Linked DNA regions of Homo sapiens: region 2 is linked to region 1. The links come from fine-mapping of genetic effects on gene expression. Tissue or cell type: neural progenitor cells. Region 1 holds a variant in brackets; the other region holds the start of a gene. All regions are shown on one strand. Distances are from middle to middle.

The links. PIP is the estimated chance that this variant, and not a neighbour inherited with it, causes the effect.
Region 2: it holds the start of TMTC1, and the variant in region 1 is fine-mapped to the expression of TMTC1 in neural progenitor cells (Aygun 2021, PIP 0.95).

Annotation. Positions count from the first base shown.
Region 1 is chr12:29,966,169-29,976,376 of GRCh38, forward strand. All of the region lies in intron 3 of LOC105369715 (a long non-coding RNA gene), which reads right to left. Among named protein-coding and RNA genes, the nearest start is that of TMTC1, 190 kb to the left of the region's middle. The variant GA/G (reference allele first, on the strand shown) is at 5,481.
Region 2 is chr12:29,778,374-29,788,581 of GRCh38, forward strand. TMTC1 (transmembrane O-mannosyltransferase targeting cadherins 1) reads right to left here and starts at 5,569. Exons shown (of 18, transcript NM_001193451.2): 1 at 5,077-5,569. The coding sequence starts at 5,378.

The sequences.
Region 1 (10,208 bases):
TGCAGGGAAACCGCAGAGCATGATGGTGAAACAGAGCTCAGAGTGAACAGATCTTGGTTCTATTCTCACATCTTCTTTCTGGGACCTCAGTGCACAATTTCCTTACTTATAAAAGAAAAACAGGCACAGTCCTGTACCTTGTGGGGGTGTCCAAATCTAATCTAAACTGCTTACATCCAGGAGCTAACTTTAATTCTTAGAATAAACATGAGGGTTCAGTTATTTTTTTAAAAAAAAGGACAATAATTTTACAGGACACAATTTAAAAAGTAAGCAGCATTCTGTTGTGAGGTACAGGAATAAAAAAAGCCAAAAGAGAATCAAGTCAAAAATCAATTTAAGATATAGTCATTGCTTTCAGACTGTGATCTACTGCTACTTAGAAGGAAATATATCTTTAAAAAAGGTGGAAAGAAAGCTCAGCATTATTTAAATGTTGTTTAGCCCTGCCTGTTTTCTGGGTCACCTCTCGCTGCCATTCAGAGGTGGTGGCTTGGGGAAATATAAATGAAATTCAATACCTCCTTCAGGAAGACACAGTTTGAAGGATGCTTTCTTCCAAAGAGGAAAACACAAATCATTCAATTTAAATACAATTTTTGGATGGGAAAGCTACTTGGGCAGCATGGATCATGGAATGTGAACAGGACGAGGAGTCCAAGGGCAGTGATTCCATCCTGGTCTGCCACAATCTGCACCAAGGTCACATGAGATCTCTAAGTCTTGGTTTCTGAAACTGTAAAATGGGGAGAAGGATGATAATAATTGCTATGACTGAAGTTACCCTAACTCTTAAATAAGGTAAAAGACATGAAATAACTCTGGAAAGCAGAAAGTATTACATCCATCTTAACTATTATAACCATTCTAATCAACTGGATTAAATTCTACACTGAAATGTACCCATTCTACTTAAAAAGCAAAACCAAACCAAACAAACAACAAAACCAACCAGACTGTAAACCAGGTGACCATCCAGGTCCTGTCACCAATTAGTTGTGTGAGTTTATACCAGTCGTTTATTCTCTCAGGGCCTCGGTTTCTCTTACAGGATCATTCTCACAGACTGGCAAGATCCTCATGACATACAGACCAATCCACACTTTGAAAACAACAAAGTGCTATGTAGCAGGGATAGTCATCAAATTGACTTTACCAAAATAGAATTAGAAAAAAAAAAATTCCTATGTTTTGTTTGAACTGCTTTTTATTGTCAAAAGGAGACATTTTCACCATCCAAAATATGATATTTTTCTAAGTTGGACTCACGTGTATTAATACAAGAAAACAGTTACTGGCAATTTGTGTTAATTGAAAAAGAAAGAGCATAGTATCGATCTCTTGCTTAGGTCTTGGCAAAATGAAATTTAAAAGAATCTCTGCCATCCTTCTCCTGTACAGCCACACTCAGCACAGTGTTATATCATCACTGCAGGGGCTCTTTCCTAAGAATGAGATGGCACTTTGTAGCCAGGCCATTAAACCTGGCTTTTTTTGAAAAGAATTAGCCAAGAAAAAAAATGCACATTTACATGGTACTTGAAATCAATTTTTTCATTATATTATGTGATCCGGGGACCCAAATAGGCATGAGAAGAAAATTTTCCAGCCTTCTTGTTACTTGGGCTTTAAGTAAAACATATTGAGAAATAGCTATAACTTTAAAAAATAAGCCCTAAGAACTACAGATGAAGAAATAAATGGCCATAAAACCTAAAAGCAGTAGAGTAAAATAATAAACACCATATAATCTTACAATCTAAATAAATGCTAAAATTGCTGCACTCATGTTTTTCATCTGCTGATTTCCTTTTATTCTATGAAGGAGGTTTCTGGTGCTGAAATGGCATTTCTGTCTCAGTATGCATTTCTTCATCCATCCTCAGTGTTCATCCTTCTCAATTTCTATCAAATAGTACCGAGTTTTCAACTTCAGTTTTTTAAAAAAATTACTGATTTGTATTGCTTAAATCTTCTTTAATAGTATAGTAATGGGATTTTTCAGTGTGTGTTGCATCCCCTTCATTTTGTATTGCATCAGGAGAGCTGAGGCCATTTTTGAACTTAAAACTTACTTCACATCCATGATAAATGTTATTGTCATGCACGATAGTAAAATTATTTCATAATTAGCCAACAGCAATGTTTCCACTTAACAGGATTAAAGAAAAACGTGAACACGCACACACACACAGACACACACACAAACACATTAGTAAAAAGCACATGCCTCTCTGTGAATATGATCCCAAGATTCAGGGAGTAATCCAGCAGGTGGAGAAGATGCATTTATACTGCCATAACCAAGGCAATTTTGTCAATTCCATTATGGAGAGGCTGGAAGAGCACAAACAACCCATTAAGCTTACGCGGGATCTGGTGAGAGCCCTTGACAAAACATTAATGAAAGACAAAATTGAAGGTAAACACAATAATTAACGCCAATGCATACTGAGCTAGGCAACCATGACCTTATAGGAATGGACTGGGATAAGATTATATCTGCTTAGAATAATGACAATTTTTAGAATAATTATTCATTCTGATGGGATAAAAGCATTTATAGGCTAAAAATAAAAACCAATTTTATTGCCTTACCAATATTAGTTTATTAAATTTCAAATTTTAAAAGAGAACCCTTTAAAGTTTTTTATTTTTGTTTCTGAAGCTTTAAACTCAAAATACATTTTAGAGAACACTTTATTGTTACTTTTAGTTTTCTACTGTGTAGATAAAGCAGGATATTACAGTTAGCATGGTATGTGATAACTGAATTTCTAATGAGTTATTTCAATTCAGTTAAAAACAATCATCGATGTATCTATTAAATACAATTGATAATTAAATCATCAATTATCTGTTAAATAACTCATCTATTGAATGGATTATTTGAATGCAGTTAAGAGCAATCACCAATTATCTATTAAATACCAGGGATCCCTGGGCAAGTACTGGAGGATATGCAAAAATGAAGAAGCATATTTCTTTTCCCCTAGAAGTCTGTAAATACAGAAATAATTTCATTATTTGTGTGAATTCTCAGTTTCTCATGAGGCATATATAAATATATAAATAATCCATTACTTTTTTTATTCCCACCATTTTGTTAATGTTTCTGTCTTTTTGTAGTAGTTGTTTTCATTCTGACTAGGTTACAAGTTAAATATCATTACTGTTACTATTATCACTAACAACATCACCCACACACCTAAGGTTTATATTGATAAATATATAAGATTCAAGACTCCAATCTAACCCATTCTGCAATGACGTAACTGCATTATCAACTCATAAACATGGCAGTAAGCAAAAACCAAAACTCTATCCCTAAAGGCAAAGTTATCACTTATGATCTCAGCTCACTTGTTTGTTACTCATAACATAAGCTGAGTATGATAACTGAATTATAATCCTGAACGATTCTCCCAAATTATATCCCTTGGAACACTTGTTTTGAGAAATACTTTTCCCCCAAAAGCATTCCTTGGGCAATGCTGTATTCATCTTTTCTTCTTAAAAAGTTTCACATGGCTACTACAATAAAGAAATCTATTTATCTTTGTTTAACCCGCCATTTTCTAAATTTCTCTGACCAATGGACTTTGCATTTCCACCTCACTCACTTAAGAACAGCCATGGACAACCCTCAGAAGTAGTATTTTCAGGAAGCCATGTTAAGAAATGTTGACTGAGAAGAGAAAGAATTAATTCAGATGGATATTACAGTCCCCAAAGCTTGAAAACTCTAATTATTCTGCCTGAAGAAGAGACTGTGACACCATAATTAAAACTGTTGAAATTACAGCGCCCTTGACATTCCATTTCCTTAAAGATACTTCCAAGATGTAAAATGTACCTAGCTGAAGGACACTGACAATATCTCTTTCTCTGTTGTGCCCATTGTTCAGGACACTTGTATGGTGGGAACAAAAAAAAAAGTGAAAATGTTAAGCCATTTGATTGTACATCAAGCTTTAAGGTAGGCACATTTGCTTTTTCTTTTGTCTCTCCATATTCCACTATCAAAATCAAACAATGGTGAGTTTCATCTCAACAAGAAAATTGTTGACATAAAGTATTAAAATAAGTAACCATCCAATCATGTATGATTTGGAACTACTAGGCAAAAGCTACCAGCATTAAATACATTTCAAGTTCTTGCATTAGAATATCCTTCTTGCCTCAGGGGCTGAGTTCTGGGCCTGGTGGGGCTGCTGACCACTACTCATGTAGTGCTATTTGTACAAGATGGCAGAAGTTCCTTGGGTAAAGAAACTACATTACTCAGAGAGAAAAATGTACACAATGTCTGCCAAAACGATTCTTAACTTTTGATTTTCTTTTCTGTTTTATTTCACTTCTCCTTTCTGCCACTGGACTCTGCCTGGAATGATATATTTTTAGAGCACTGAAATCCTACTAAAACACTTTTAAAAACACTTAAGCGATGCACAATTATGTGGGTAAAAAAAAAATCCAATAGGTCAACATTCCCATTGTTTAGAAGCAGCTGCAAAGGAGGACTGGCTGTACGTCCACCGGTACACCATGTTTGCAGGAGTTGAGGAAGCAAAGGAATTTGCTTACTTCCTTAACTCAAAACTAAAAAGAAGCCAAATCAGCACCATTATATGACTTAGCTGTTTTTGCTGCATTTAGAGTAGATGTAGCTGGCATTTAGTAAGTTCCTCCCATCTCTGTCACCCACCATACTAGAAATAAGCTTATGAGGCTAGCTTTTAACGCAGAAATCTAAGATAATGCCTAAGTCATAAAAACAAGATCAGTCCTTGTCAAGTTCCTAGACAATTAAATGCCATACTTCCCCTGACACACACTTCTGCCCCATCTAAGATGAATTTAATTTGGGGGCAGAAGGAGTTTCTATTAAAAAGCCAAAGAAGACAAGCTGCATGAGCTTAAAAGGACTACACAAGAGCTTAGGAAGCTGTTTTGGGAGACATAGGAGAGGCAGCCAGACAAAGAAAACACATTGAGCCTTAGAAAGGCTCACTGCTTCTCTCTGGACATCTTTAATTGGCAAAGAAAGCTCAAGGGCCTTTTTATCCCTCCAACCACACTGTAGGAAGTAACTAAGGGATAGCAAATTTCAGGTGCCATCTCTGAGAGGCAGCTAGTGGATATCATAGCTATGGCTACAGCACAAAATACTCTTGTGCTAACCCACTCTGGCCTTGCCCTAGAAACTCTCCTGGACAGTTTGTGTTTAAGAATTCCTTTAGTGCTTCTTGGCCATAGTTATGACTATAGTGCAGCCAGGACTGTAATTCAAAGTTTGATTGATTGATTCATTGATTGATTGATTGATGTATGCTAAATTCAGCTGTCTGGCCACTGACAGATTCAAGGAGTATCCAGGAAACGCGGTGAGTTAATCCCTATGCTGGTTGTTTCCTTCAGATGCACAGTAATAGAAAGCATCCCTGGGACTCTTTCCTCTTTCATCATAGAAGAGCACA[GA/G]AGGCCTTTCATATATCCTGAGCTCAAAGACTGACTGCAGCTGCAGAATCATGAGGCTTACAAGGAGAGGACTCCAGCATGGCCATAGTTAAAGCAGGAACTTTGCTTTAACAATTAGCCCTGACCTATTAAAAGTGGGACTGCTAGTATTTATAGCAACTTCCTGATTCTATTACCATGCACAGCCCTCCATCTGAATAATGTGCAGATATTTTTTATTCCTGGTAATGGTAAGGGTCTGGAAGCAATAGCCTCTCTCACTAGGTATCTGATTAGGTGAAAATTCCTTTGGGTTTTATGTGATCATCGTGGTGGCATTGCATTAGTTATGAAACAAAGCCTAACTTCATTTGAAGAATTCTTCAATAATCAGGTTAAAAAATTACTTTTAATTTTGATTTTCTATAAAATATATATATTTTTAAAACAGCCACCTTTTAAATGTACTGTAGACCCATGCAGACACAAAACACACTTTGTGTATTTATCCTTTAACTAAGCCTTTGAATTAGATCGGGGCTTGAGGTCTTCAGAAGTGTCAAGGGGGTATTTTCTATAAAAACGATGAATAATTCAAGAGATGTCTGTCAGAATAAATTTAAGTTCATCTTGATTTTGACTGCCACAGGTATGTCACACAAAATCCTGCTGGTAATTATCCCCTATCCCATCTTTAGGAAAAAAAACAAAGTGTTTCATCTATATAACTCAACGAATGCTTCACTGAACTGAAACAGAATAGTGATTTTTAAGCTCTCTTTTGAAGACCATTGTGAACAGCCACTGTGTAGTTTACTTTTCACCGTCCTAATCAACATTTTTATTGTTTATTGTGACTCTCTTACTATTGCTTTTCCATTTTTTTCCTGCGAATTAAGATTTTAAAATTAATTATAAGATACTGTGTTTGATGTTTTAAGGAGTCTTGCAGTGGAACAAAGTTTATTTTCATTTAAAAGCCACAATAAATATAGAAACATAATTGAGTGGCTGAAGGAAAAGGAATAAGTTAGGAGTCATAGAAATAATCTCTAATCCACTGAGAATTTTAATCTTTTAAATTAAAGCATTAGAAAACTTAAAGCCTTAATATACACAACTCCGGTAATTTAAGGTGCTCTTTATTTGTACCTAGTACCATTTCCTTAATCACAACTAGTAAAATTAGCAGGCAAGGGCACTGTTATGCCCTTCTATCCTAGCCACAGTCTCTGTGACGTATGAATAGGACATAATTCTTGGGAGGGAGGAGGTGCCTAAGGGAAAAACGAAAGGAAGGAAACACAACAACAAAATAAGTCCAAATAAACTATGACAATAGGGCTGATACTTTATATTTGCATTATATTTTACAGTTTATGAAGTGTTTTTCCATTCATTCAATTATTTAGTCTTCACTATTCTTTAAAATTATTATTGTCCCTACCTTACAGGTGAGGAAACCATAGCTGGAAGAAATTAAGTAAACTATATATCATTTAAAAATACATAAATTATTATTTTACTCATATTACTAAGAACTAGTGTTCTTTAAAGAAAGTATAAGGAGGATAGTGTCTCTAGTAAATCTATGAGTTTTTCAAAAAGATGATTCAGTTAAACTTTCAGGGATAATAGCCCACTAAGGGGATGATAAATACATAGCTACTAATTAAATCTTCCACTGGGATAATTACTTAACTTCATTTCATTGGCCAATGTATTCAGCTTTTAGGGGCCAGTTCTCAGAGACAGAAGTGAAATCAACTCACATTTCAAGAAACTGGGCTACTGAAATCTCATTTCTGACATAGTATGAATTTCTGTCCCTGCCCAAATCTCATGTCCAATTGTCATCCCCAGTGTTGGAAGAGGGGCCTGGTGGGAGGTGACTTAATTATGAGAACAGACTTCCTCCTTCCTATTCTCATGATAATGAGTGAGTTCTCAGGAGATCTGGTTGTTGTAAAAGCCTGTGGCACCCCCAATCCCCTCGGCCTCTTCCTCCTGCTCTAGCCATGTAGGACATGCCGGCTTCCCCTTCGCCTTCTGCCACGATTGAAAATTTCCTGACGTCTCCCCAGCTATGCTTCCTATACAGTACAGCTTACGGAATTATGAGCCAGTTAAACCTCTTTTCATTATAAATGACCCAGTCTCAGGTAGTTCTTTACAGCAGTGTGAGAATGGACTAATACAATTTCTTCAGTAGGAGATTTGTTTCCTATTATACAACATGAATATTACATCCCTGAAAAATATGGCATTATGGAAAGCCAGTTCAGAATAGATGACATTAAGAAAGTGTATAAAACTTGGCTTTCTACATCTTATAGAAAATTGTAAATAAAAATACATATTCATTCAGCTCTATTATTCTTAATGTCAACCAAAAGTCCACAGGCTGAGGTCAGAAAACAATACAGTGGGACTATAATCCAGACAATAAACAAAGATTACTTATTGATGAAACCTATATAATTAAAGTTTAATTATATATTTGATTTCAGTCATTTTCTTTAGATTTTCAAATAATCTTTTCAAAACCCAAAGAGTTTGGTCATTTTTTATTATTTCAGCAACTTTCTTACTCCTGTTTGCAATTTCCTTTCTGAGTGTACACACCATGATTTGTCTGATTGCCATTCTTACACATTAATTTATTCAAAGTTAACTATGCTTAAAATAAGATATTTATTTACTATTTCATATTGAAAAAAATCAAAGGGAAAATATGACTAGTCTGTGATCTTAAACTGAACCTTGTTCCCGCCATAACATTTGAATTATCAAGTCAATAAATCTCCCTTTGATAAAAGTAGGTAATCTTAATGGCCTGCCTCTTAATCATTATTAATAATTCAGATAGTCACTTTCTGCTATAATTGTACTCCTTCTTGGTCCATAATAGACAGATCCAAGAAAATTCTTAGGTGATTTAGGAAAGTGTGACACATTCTCAAATGAGAGGTCGGTCCACTAAATAACCTGACCTCACACAATGAGTTAATACAGATGACTTCTAGGAATGACCTAGAAGGACTCTGTCCTGTTTATTTTCCAAGACAACTTACACTTAGACCATTGCTGTCTGTTTCCCTCCAGGGAATGAATTTTGATAAATAACTGAATTGGCCTGATAGCTGAGGGGTTAACTAAGTACCAGTGGGTAGGAGAATTATTGAATGAAATTCTATTTTTAAATTGTACTTCTCTGCTCTTTTAAATGAAAAATAGTGACCAGTTTCAGCTTTCTAAATATGGCTAGCCAGTTTTCCCAGCACCATTTATTAAATAGGGAATCCTTTCCCCATTTTTGTTTTTGTCAGGTTTGTCAAAGATCAGATGGTTGTAGATGTGAGGTATTATTTCTGAGGGCTCTGTTCTATTCCATTGGTCTATATCTCTGCTTTGGTACCAGTACCATGCTGTTCTGATTACTGTAGCATTGTAGTACAGTTTGAAGTCAGGTAGTGTGATGCCTCCAGCTTTGTTCTTTTGGCTTAGGATTGACTTGGCGATGCGGGCTCTTTTTCAGTTCCATAGGAACTTTAAAGTAGTTTTTTCCAATTCTGTGAAGAAAGTCATTGGTAGCTTGATGGGGATGGCATTGAATCTATAAATTACCTTGGGCAGTATGGCCATTTTCATGATATTGATTCTTCGTACCCATGAGCATGGAATGTTCTTCCATTTGTTTGTATCCTCTTTTATTTCATTGAGCAGTGGTTTGTAGTTCTCCTTGAAGAGGTCCTTCACATCCCTTGTAAGTTGGATTCCTAGGTATTTTATTCTCTTTGAAGCAATTGTGAATGGGAGTTCACACACCCCACTGTCAAGGTTAGACAGATCAATGAGACAGAAAGTTAACAAGGATACCTAGGAATTGAACTCAGCTCTGCACCAAGCGGACCTAATAGACATCTACAGAACTCTCCACCCCAACTCAACAGAATGTACATTTTTTTCAGCACCACACCACACCTATTCCAAAATTGACCACATAGTTGGAAGTAAAGCTCTCCTCAGCAAATGTAAAAGAACAGAAATTATAACAAACTGTCTCTCAGACCACAGTGCAATCAAACTAGAACTCAGGATTAAGAAACTCACTCAAAACTGCTCAACTACATGGAAACTGAACAACCTGCTCCTGAATGACTACTGAGTACATAACGAAATGGAGGCAGAAATAAAGAGGTTCTTTGAAACCAATGAGAACAAAGACACAACATACCAGAATCTCTGGGACACATTCAAAGCAGTGTGTAGAGGGAAATTTATAGCACTAAATGCCCACAAGAGAAAGCAGGAAAGATCCAAAATTGACACCCTAACATCACAATTAAAAGAACTAGAAAAGCAAGAGCAAACACATTCAAAAGCTAGCAGAAGGCAAGAAATAACTAAAATCAGAGCAGAACTGAAGGAAATAGAGACACAAAAAACCCTTCAAAAAATTAATGAATCCAGGAGCTGGTTTTTTGAAAGGATCAACAAAATTGATAGACTACTAGCAAGACTAATAAAGAAAAAAAGAGAAGAATCAAATAGATGCAATAAAAAATGATAAAGGGGATATCACCACCGATCCCACGAAATACAAACTACCATCAGAGAATACTACAAACACCTCTACGCAAATAAACTAGAAAATCTAGAAGAAATGGATAAATTCCTCGACACATACACCCTCCCAAGACTAAACCACGAAGAATTTGAATCTTTGAATAGACCAATAACAGGCT
Region 2 (10,208 bases), 190 kb before region 1:
GTTGGGATAAAATTAAAAAGCTAAGTTTATTTTAAACCATTCTGGACCATTTTTCAAGGGAGGGGTTATGGACATCATAGAGTTTGGTTCTGTGTCAATTCACCCTCTACAGAGTAGCTTAATGCATTTCTCTTGATTTCAGGCTTACAAACAGGTCATGGCCAGGGAAGGAAAAAGAAGCAAAAAAAAAATGTTATTGCTGCAGAGTCACAGATGTTTTGATTCTGTACCACTATGGTCCAAAAATATTCTTGCATGCCCTTGGGCATGATCTTATGAAAAGACTGAATCTGAGATTTGACTGGAAACAGAAATTCATTGTAATTCTAAATTCACTTCAAGGAACACAAAGAGATGGTCATTTGTATCAGTTAGGGTTAGACTAGAAAACCAGAGCCACCATGAGTGATTCAGAAGAAGGGATGTACTATGGGGATCTGACCTTTTACTATTGCTGGGGCTGGTTAAATAGCCTATGTAAGTGTGATGCTTCTGTGTCTATTATCCAAGTTGAAAGCCAGCAGGGCAGCAGGGCCATTCTGGAAGAGAGGGTGAATGGACTTGAAGTAGGGGGAAGCAAAGGCAAAATGGAACCCACAAGGATGAGCTAAAATACATGTCTGTTTTCCACTGCCTTTAAGGCTCCAACTTTAACAATGCAAGAGGCTTGCAAAAAGACTGGCACTCTTCCCTGCAGAGCTGCATACACACCTGCACCATGATTCCAAGTAGCTGAAAGACGAGATCTGGAGAGCACTGGAGGAGCTGAGGGCCTGGGTGCTGCTGCAAACCAACAGCATGTTCACCAACATTTCTGTGACAAACTGCAAGAGGCCTGGCAGCAACAAAACCTATGCCAACATTCTGAATGTGATCTTAGCCACTTCACTTTCACCTTCCAAATCTTGCAGAAATTTTTCTTATGGTCAGCCCTAACCCAGATCATCTTGCAAAGGCAATTCCAAGAAACATAGTCCCAACTTAGCTAAAGTGACATAGTGCAAAGCCACCACATCTTGGTAAGCTGCTTTCATATTCCACTGTCCCATCCCCTCAAAACTGGTAGAAGTAGATGGTCTGCAACCCATTTCCTCATTTCAAATTTTAGTTCATTTCTTACTTGAAAAAATACATAATTAGTATCTTTACTACCTAAGCAAGCACTTTTATTATTTATTAGTATACAAGCAACCACCTTTATAGCAAAAAGTATTATGCATCTATAAATTACATTTATTCTTAAGGAAATTTCTAGCTCTCAGTATGCGTAAGATACATTCAATGAATCAAAAATCAACTTACATTTTAATAAAAAATATGTTTGGAGTATTGCACTGAGAAAGGTCCTGTGAGGAGGACAAAAAGACAAGCTACAGAGTGGGAGAAAATATTTACCAATCACATACTTGACAAAGTACATGTATCTAGAATATATAAAGAACTTCAATACTCAACATTTAAAAAAAACACTTAAAAATGGACAAAAGACACAAAGGCACATTTACCAAACTCTTTGGTTTAATATCAGATGTTCAATAGCTTCACCCATTAGGGAATGGTAAATTAATGAGGTACATATATAGGTGTGATATCACTACATACCTATCAAAATGGCTACAGTAAAAAACAGCAACAATACAAAGTGCTGGCAGAAATGCACAGAAACTGGATTACTCAGACACTGCGGCTAGGAACATCTGGAAAACAGTATGGCAGCTTCATATAAAGCATATGAACATGCAGCCACCATATGGCCCAGCAATTGGACTCCTGGGCATTTAGAACAGAGAAATAAAAATCTATGTTTACATAAAAACCTGTAAGTGAATTTTTATAGCAGCTTTATCCCAGCCAAAAGTTGGAAACAACCTAGATGTCCCCAACAGGTGAATGGTTATACAAACTGTGGTATATCCATACAATGGAATACAACTCAGCAATAAAAAGGAACAAACTATGGATACATGCAACAGCCTGAATGAAGATCCAGAGACATGCTGAGTGCAAGAAGCCAATCTCAACAGGTTACATACTATGTGATTCCATTTATACAACAGTATTAAAATGGCAAAATGATAATGGAGAACAGATTCATGGTTGTTATGGATTTGGGTGAGGGGATTATGGATTAGGCAGTTGTTATAGATTAGGTGTCCATGATTGCAATAAAGAAGTACTGAGGATCCTTGGGATGGAATTGTTCCGTATCTTGACTGTGGAGGTACTCTCTGAAATCTACACATATGATAAAGCTGCATAAAACTAAATACACACTTAGTAAAATAAAAAAAATAGAAGTACATATAAAATGGGTGAAATCTGACTAAATGCTGTAGATTGCATCAATATCAATTTCCTGGTTGTAATATTATACCATAATAATACAGGATGTTACCATTGGGGGAAATGGATAGAGTAGAAGGAATCTCTCTATTATTACTTAAAACTGCATGGGAATGCACAATTACATTAAAAAAGTTTTTAAAACGGGTTTGAAATCTCAAAGTTTTTGCTCAAACAAGCATAATTTAAGATACAGTTAAAATGGTTTGCACATATTTAAAGGGCCCCTTCAATTGTGTTTTCACTATCTAAAATAAAAATCATAAAGACGTAATCTATGTGAAGTATCTAGGCCAATGCTTGGTTCATAGCGAATAGTTAATAAATACGGCTTTCTGTCCTTCCTTGTACCATCCTGTAGAGTTGTATGGTTCTAAAATCACTGATATCCTCCAGCTTCATGCTATACCTCAGGTGAATATAAAGAAAACTGTCCAGTCTTATTTAAATCAATGCATGTGAGGACAGAAAGACTACTTAACATTCTCTTTCTGAAGAGGCAGTTATCTCTTTCCAATTAGTGCTGTGTTTCTCTTCTAGATTTGCAACTCAATCTTCTCAAAAAAAGAGTGTATCTTTCATAGGCAGTAGCATATAATATACAGCAAGCCATGCCTCTTAGACACCAAGCTGCTTGTTACAATCAATGATTACCACAAGAGTCCCTCAGCTCTCTTCCTCCTGAATCCCCCAACTCTCCTTTGCCCTTGTTCTGTCAACTCCTAGCCAATTTTCCTCTTAATCAATGGTCTTACTTCTTTGTCTACTCCCTCCACCCCTCCCTTATGTGCCTGCTGTCTCCATTATGAAGAAAAATAAAACATTTTAGGTGAGGTACAGTAGCTCATGCCCACAAGTCCAGCACACTGGGAGGCTGAGGCTTAAAGATCGCTTAGCCCAGGAGTTCAACACCAGCCTAGACAACATAGGAAGACCCCATATCTACAAAAAAAATTTTAAAATATATCTGGATGCACGGCATGTGCCAGTAGTAGTTCCAGCTACTTGGGAGGCTGAGGCAGGAGAATTGCTTATGCCCAGAAGTTTCAGGCTACAGTGAGCAATAATCATGCCACTGCACTCCAGGCTGGAGGACAGAGTGAGATCCCATCCCAAAAAAGAAAAAAAGAGAAAAGACAGAGAAAAAAGAAGAAAACCTTCTAGAAAGTCAAGAAGTGAAAACACCCTTCCCTACTCTCCAGCAAGTAGGCACAGGCATTTGACTCTGCCCTTTTTAATTGAAAAATACTCAGACCTGTGACCAGGATGGTCTCCATGGCTGTTACAAAGATAGCAAGCACATCTCATGCTGTGAACTTGCACATCCTAAATTAACCAACAACCCTGACTGTAATAATGAAAAAGCAGGTCAATCTAGAAGTGAAACATTTATATTTGTCCCAAGGAGATTTTAAGAAACATCTGGGAAACTGAATAGCGAGGTTAGCCAAGGTTATCTTTCAGTAGAAAACGAGAACAACTTTCTAAGAGAACAAATGTCTATAACACATTCTCTTCAAAGTCAAATATGTAATTTTCTCACTCTCCTTAAAAACATTAAACTTTCAGTGGAAGACGTAAGTCAAAAGCCCATGAATTGTTGCCGATTGCTATGGTTTCCTTTTCTGAGTCATCAGAGACACCTGTCAAGAGGCCTCAGCCTCTCATCCAGAGCAGGCTTTTCAAGCTGCCAACCCAGTCTCAAATAATCATTACCATAAACACGGGTTCCTATTACACCCGTTGCAAAAAGGCTTAAAACGCCGATAATAGCGCACCAATATTATTTCAACAGTTTTGACCGGCGCGTTAAAATGAACTTCAATGCTGAGCCACATTATAAAGGGTTGAGTCAAGCTCCTGATTGTGTAAGATAGCATTTCCCTTAAATGAGCACTTCTCTTCTTTCCTCAGAAGCTAGGCTTCTTTTCAAATTAAAGAAAATACTCCACCCCTCAAAAACCTGGCATATTCTCGGTTCCCTTTACGCTTATTCACACCAGAAACGCTGAATCATGACTCCGAGGTTGTAAAAGAAAAACTATTTCGGCTGGGGCCCCAGGGTCCCTGGAGAAGCCTAGGCTCTGCGTTACCTCTCTCTGCACCTTCTAAAGTCTAGATCCAGAGAAGTCTGGCAGATTGGAGAGCCTCTGGGAGCAGCCAAGGGTGCAAGGCGGGGGCTGGGGGGCTCGGGAGAGTTTTCTGCTCCCTCTCCTGAACCCACGCAGCCCTGTCAGCTCAAGGCTCCCGCCTCGTCTCATCTGAACGAAACCCTTAAGGGGCTGATACACTTCTCATCTGCAAAGCTGCCCAACAGCCTCCGAGAAATTCTCTACTTGGAAGCATCGCCACCACCGCCACCCCTCCGGAACCCTCTGGGTCCGCGCTAGTCCCACTTGGTCACGATCCGGCAGGCGAAGGGGTGCGGAGGCGGTTTCACCAGCCCGCTCCCAGCCCTGCCTCGAGAGAGAAGCCCGCTGAGAGGGCAGACAGTTGAGAAACTCGATCCCAACTCCCCAGCCGGCGCCTCCCGAACCGCCCCGAGAGCCCAGATTAGCCGGGCAGTGGATCCCGGAGCAAAGTGCCATGCACATCCTGGAGAGGAGGGAGGCGTGGAGGGAAAGGGCGGCAAAAATGAAATGCCCCCAAGTCAGTCCCGCAACTTCTCCCGGTCCGAGGGACGGGCGGAGGGTAGAGGAGGCAGCGGCGGCTAGCGCGAGGTGAGGGACTCACTTGAAGGTGAGGACGCAGAGCGGCCGGTAGGACTTGTGGCTGGTGTTCTCGGCCATGCCCTTGCCCCAGAAGTCGTTGGTGAAGATGCCCCAGCGGAGCGGGGCGCCGGGCCGCACGTCGGGGTTGTTCACGATCGCCCACACGTCGTCGTGCACGAACTCGCCCTGCAGGGAGCGGCCGTAGCACAGGCAGCTTGCCCCGGCCAGCAGCGCCGCGGCCCCGGCCGGCGCTAGCCCGCAGCCCCGCCGCCGGGAGGGTGTGCGGTCCCCGCCGCCGCCTCGGGCAGAGGTGGTCACCACCATCGCGCCGCCGCCGCCGCTGCTGCCCTGGCCTCTCCCGGGCGTCTGGCATCCTCCCCTACCGGGGCCCCGGCGGCGCGCGGCGTCTGCCCGGAGGGGGGCTCGGGCATGGTGCTGCGGCAGCTGGACCCGCCGCGAGCTCCCCGCGCTCCGCCGCCGCCTGCGCCGCGGAGTTGGCCCAGCTGCAAATAAACAGCAGTCCCCCCGCCTCCCCCGGCCATCGCCACCTCCTCCGCCCCACTGCGCATGCCCGCTCGCTCTCTCTTCCACCGCCCCCCAATCCCGGGACGCGGGCCGGTTCCCCCGCACAGCCCGGCGCCCTCTGCCCCCGGCCCGCCTTGCTTGCAGGTGGACCGGGGTTCGCGGCGCGCGGCTGCCCGGGAGCTGCGGGGAAGGACACCCCAGGTTCCCACTTGCGGTGTCCGGCTGTGCTCACCCCCACGCCCCCGCCCCCATCCTTCTCCCCCGAATGGGGCTGGGAAGGGGCACATCTGGCGGACCCCTCCCGGGGGACCCAGGAGGGTTTAGCAGGTGCGCAGTCTGGAACCCCCACACCCACCTTCCAGGGAGAAAAGTGCCGCTGCTTCCCGGGAAGTTCCCGGCTTTTCAGCACCCGGGACAACAGCAGCGGCGCCCGGAGAGACGCTCTCCACCCGCCCCGCGCTCGCGTCCAGTCGCCGGCTCTGTGCTCTCCTGCCCGGGCTTTCTCTCACCCGCCCGGCGCGGCGTCCCGCTTGGCGGAGGAACCCGCGGGGATAGGGAGCACCTTCCTCAAAGCCAGGAGAAGGGGTCTCCCTGGACAAGGACATCCTGCTCGCCCTGCCCGGGTGTGTTCAGAGGCGCCACCGGCTCTTTAACTTTACAGCCCCTTTCTTGGCCCGCACTTACAAAAAGTACCAGGTTCGAGTTTTGGTTTGGGCCTGGGAGCCGAATTGTCTTCTGAAACATTTCTTATTTTATTGTTTGCTCAAGATAATTTGGGAGATGCCAAGCAAACTACTTTTTCTATCTAGCTGGATCACTTGGGTCTCATTATTTCCTGGGCTGTGGGCGTGTTTGAACAGGGCGGGGAAGAAGGTGGGGATGGGGGGATGGGGAGGTGGGGGCGATTTGTATTAGGGCCTCTGGCTTTGGCTCCTAAACTTCCTGTCTTTCTGAAAGATTGTTTTCTTTTTTAAAATACTAATTTTAATAATATGTCCCAGAGTGATGATTACTAGAATTTCTCCAGGTCTGAAAATTCTATTTGTTCTTTCAGGCACCTTCTAAATTTCCATTGCTGAGTGTTAGAAGTTATCAGGAATTTGACACATCCAGATAGAAAAACTGAAAATAAAAAGTCACCCTTTTATTCTCATCCTCCCCAAACCCTTAAAAAGCTCACCGACATAATCCAGAAATTGTTCCTCTGCTATGAGTATTTGTGTGGCTCTTTACTATAACAACTTACTTTTTAAAAAATTTTAAGACATCTGAGCAGTTGAAAAGTCAATGAATTAAGATAAACTTATTGTAACTCAAAGTACGTTTCACCCATTTTCACTTTGTTTATTTGGTGACTTGAAATTAGTGACTGAGAAATGAAACTGGAAGTCCTGGACATGGATGTTTTCATTCTTCCATCAAAATCTTTCACGCTTGGTAACCTTAATATACCGACTTTAATATCTAGACACACCTGAGTCTATTTCCCCGTATAACACACTACAGCCTTTCCTATTCACCTATTAACTTAATAAAAATATATTAAGGAGATTCTTTGTGCTACAATGTGCTAAGTATAGGATTGGAAGACCCAAAGCTGCTCGTGTGTGTGCGTCTGTATGTGTGTGTGGTTAACACCATAAAAGTCTAGCTTTCTAAGTTAACAGCTGATTGGGATAGTGAAATTATCTTTGCTGAAATCATAGTTGAGGTAATAGGTCAATGTATCAATCCTTACCTATAATTAACGGAGGCTTTCTAGAGAGAACGTCTTAACCCAAAAGAGTGACTCTAGGCCAGGTGCAATGGCTCACACCCGCAATCCCAGCACTTTGGGAGGCCAAGGCAGGAGCGTTGCTTGAGGCCAGGAGTTCAAGACTGGCCTGGGCTACAGAGTGAGACCCTGCCTCAAAAAAGAAAAGAAAAGAGTGGCCTCTAATAGTAGATTTTTATAGAAAGAAAGTCTTTTTTCCTTCCTCAAATTATCCTTAAGTCATCCTTTTCCAAGGAAGAGCTCTGGCTACCCCCTTCTTCTCGGAGTTGTTTTCTTTTTTAGATGGAAACAGTATCAGAGTGCTCCATGACCATGGAGAGTAGTGCAGGACTTGGGACTGAGACTCCAAAGAGATCATAAAAAGAAGAGATAAAGGAAACCTGAAAGTAGGATTCCTGGTTACCTAATCTTTCCTCTAGGTTCAGTGGCATCTTTATTCTATTTTGCTCAGATGACAAATTTGAGATTGACTTAAAATAGTGAAATGCTTCAAGTCTTCTCAAGGACAACTGATCAGTGAATATTTTTAAAAATTAGTTCCTTCGGGCCTGGCATGGTGGCCCACCCCTGTAATCCCAGCACTTTGGGAGGCCTAGGTGGGCAGATCAGGTCAGGAGATCGAGACCATCCTGGTCAACATGGTGAAACCCTGTCTCTACTAAAAATACAAAAATAACCTAGGCGTGGTGGCACGCGCCTGTAGTCCCAGCTACTTGGGAGGCCAAGGCAGGAGAATGGCTTGAACCTGGGAGGTGGAGGTTGCAGTGAGCCAAGATCACGCCACTGCACTCCAGCCTGGGGACCGTGTGAGACTCTATCTCTAAAAATAATAATAATAATAATAATAATAATAATAATAATTAGTTTCTTTGCAGCCTCATCACCTCCTGATTCAATACTGCTCTGTGTGGTAGGAAAAGTATAGAAGTACTGATGTCAGAGAGAGGTTTACATTGATATGCCAGCCCATCAAGCCATTTGCTTCTCTCTTAAAGTGGAAAACATCCATCTTGACTAATAAAGGGGCCCAAAAGGAAGTTAGATTTAATTCTTGTTACTTAGCCTCTAATTATTTTTAAAGGATTGATAATTAGCGCAATACTACCTCCTGAAACGCCTTGTGTCCACTCAAAAGCAATTTATAATAAAACATGAATTATTGTAGAAGTACCTCTCTGAGGCTCATATAGATTAAGTCACTCATGCAAATTAAGATGGACCATATTTCTGAAAGAGATTAGGACACAACTAAAAATAAATCAAGGGCAAGCTATTGTAATAAAACCAATTTCAAATTACTGCTAACAACAATTCTTTGCTTGACCAAACTTTAGTTAGTCTTCTGAAACTTCCTAGCACCATCATTGTACTTCCTTGTAAAATCCAGTTTTAGCAAAGAACACTACTAAGTCAGTTTGGCAAGAGAGTGATCAGATATCAAGGGTAGGGGGTTCTTGCTGTATTTGAAGTTGAGTCCAGTCTGTCTTCCCCACTGAAGGACCGCATTGCAGTGGTCCCTATAACTATCATGATGGTCCTGAATAAATTCTACCATGCTTTAACAAGTATTGTTGAATAATCTTTTTATTTTAACACTGCTCCCTGTGCTTTTTTTCAGCCTAATGATGTCCTTTATTCAAATATAACCTATATAAATGGCCAAATGCAATATTACAAAGGTGATAATATCGTTTACAAAAGAAATGATACTATAGTTTACATTAAAACATAAATTTTTGTTGTCTAGTTGTTTAAATATTACTGCTCTTGAAGAAAATACAGAAAAGTAGAAAGAAGAACAAAAAAATTTAAATTACCCCCCAACCCATGGGCCTGTGGTACAGCAGGCAACATGTGCTCTAAGAAGCTGGCCCAACACCTGACAGGGCAGGTGTCGGACAGCCTGGGGCTGTGCCCAGACCTGGGCCCAGACTGGTGGCAGCAGAAGCAACAGTGGCAGCCCGGCTGCAGCCCCAGGAGGAAAAAGGGGATCTCCCTGGAGGTAAACTGTCTTTCCTTCCATCCCTAAAGTGTCTCTCTGTGGCATCTGCACGGTAATAAAATTTAAGAGTATCAAAAATTATTTGTGACCTTGCATTTTCTGGCACTCAGGCAATAAACTTTGTCAGTATATTACTACAAGATAAAAGTATACATAGGTACATTGCAATACAAAATATTGCAGGAGAGGAACACTGTCTTTTCTTCCTACCTTTGTTGGTTCCTGGCTGGATCTCTGTAACAAAAGACAGATCAAGAGAAATGCATACAAATTCGTTTAGTATAAGTTTTTCGTGACACAGGAGACTTCATAAGGAATTGAAGACCCGAAGAAGTAGTTAAACCTGATTGTTTTCAAAGTATGTTTGCTGAAGAATAAAGAAACATAGAAAAATATGATAGGATAAAAATGGGTATGAACTAAGAGTTGTAAACTGGGGGAACCTTAGCAAGGCCTGTTTGTTCATATTTATCTGGGAATCACTGCAGCTTTGGAAATAAGGACAATCTCCTTGGAAGATAGGAGGGGCACCTCTCACATGAAGGTCTTATGACCTGCTTCATAGGAAGATCAGAAAGTCCTTCCTGCACCTGCCATTTCTTGAATTCCTTTGGCTTAAAATATTCACTAAGTCAAAGGTGTCATATTTTGGGGCAGCATGTCCTGAACCACATCAATATCAAGGATTTACCAGAATTCTTCAAAGAGTGGAATCTCTGGCTTTGAAAACTGCTGCAACATTGCAAACCTAATATCCATAGTCTTAGAAATTATTGTGTATAATAGAAAAGAACACTATTTTCATCTGAATGTAATTTTAATAACATACATGTTATTTTACATTTGAATACAT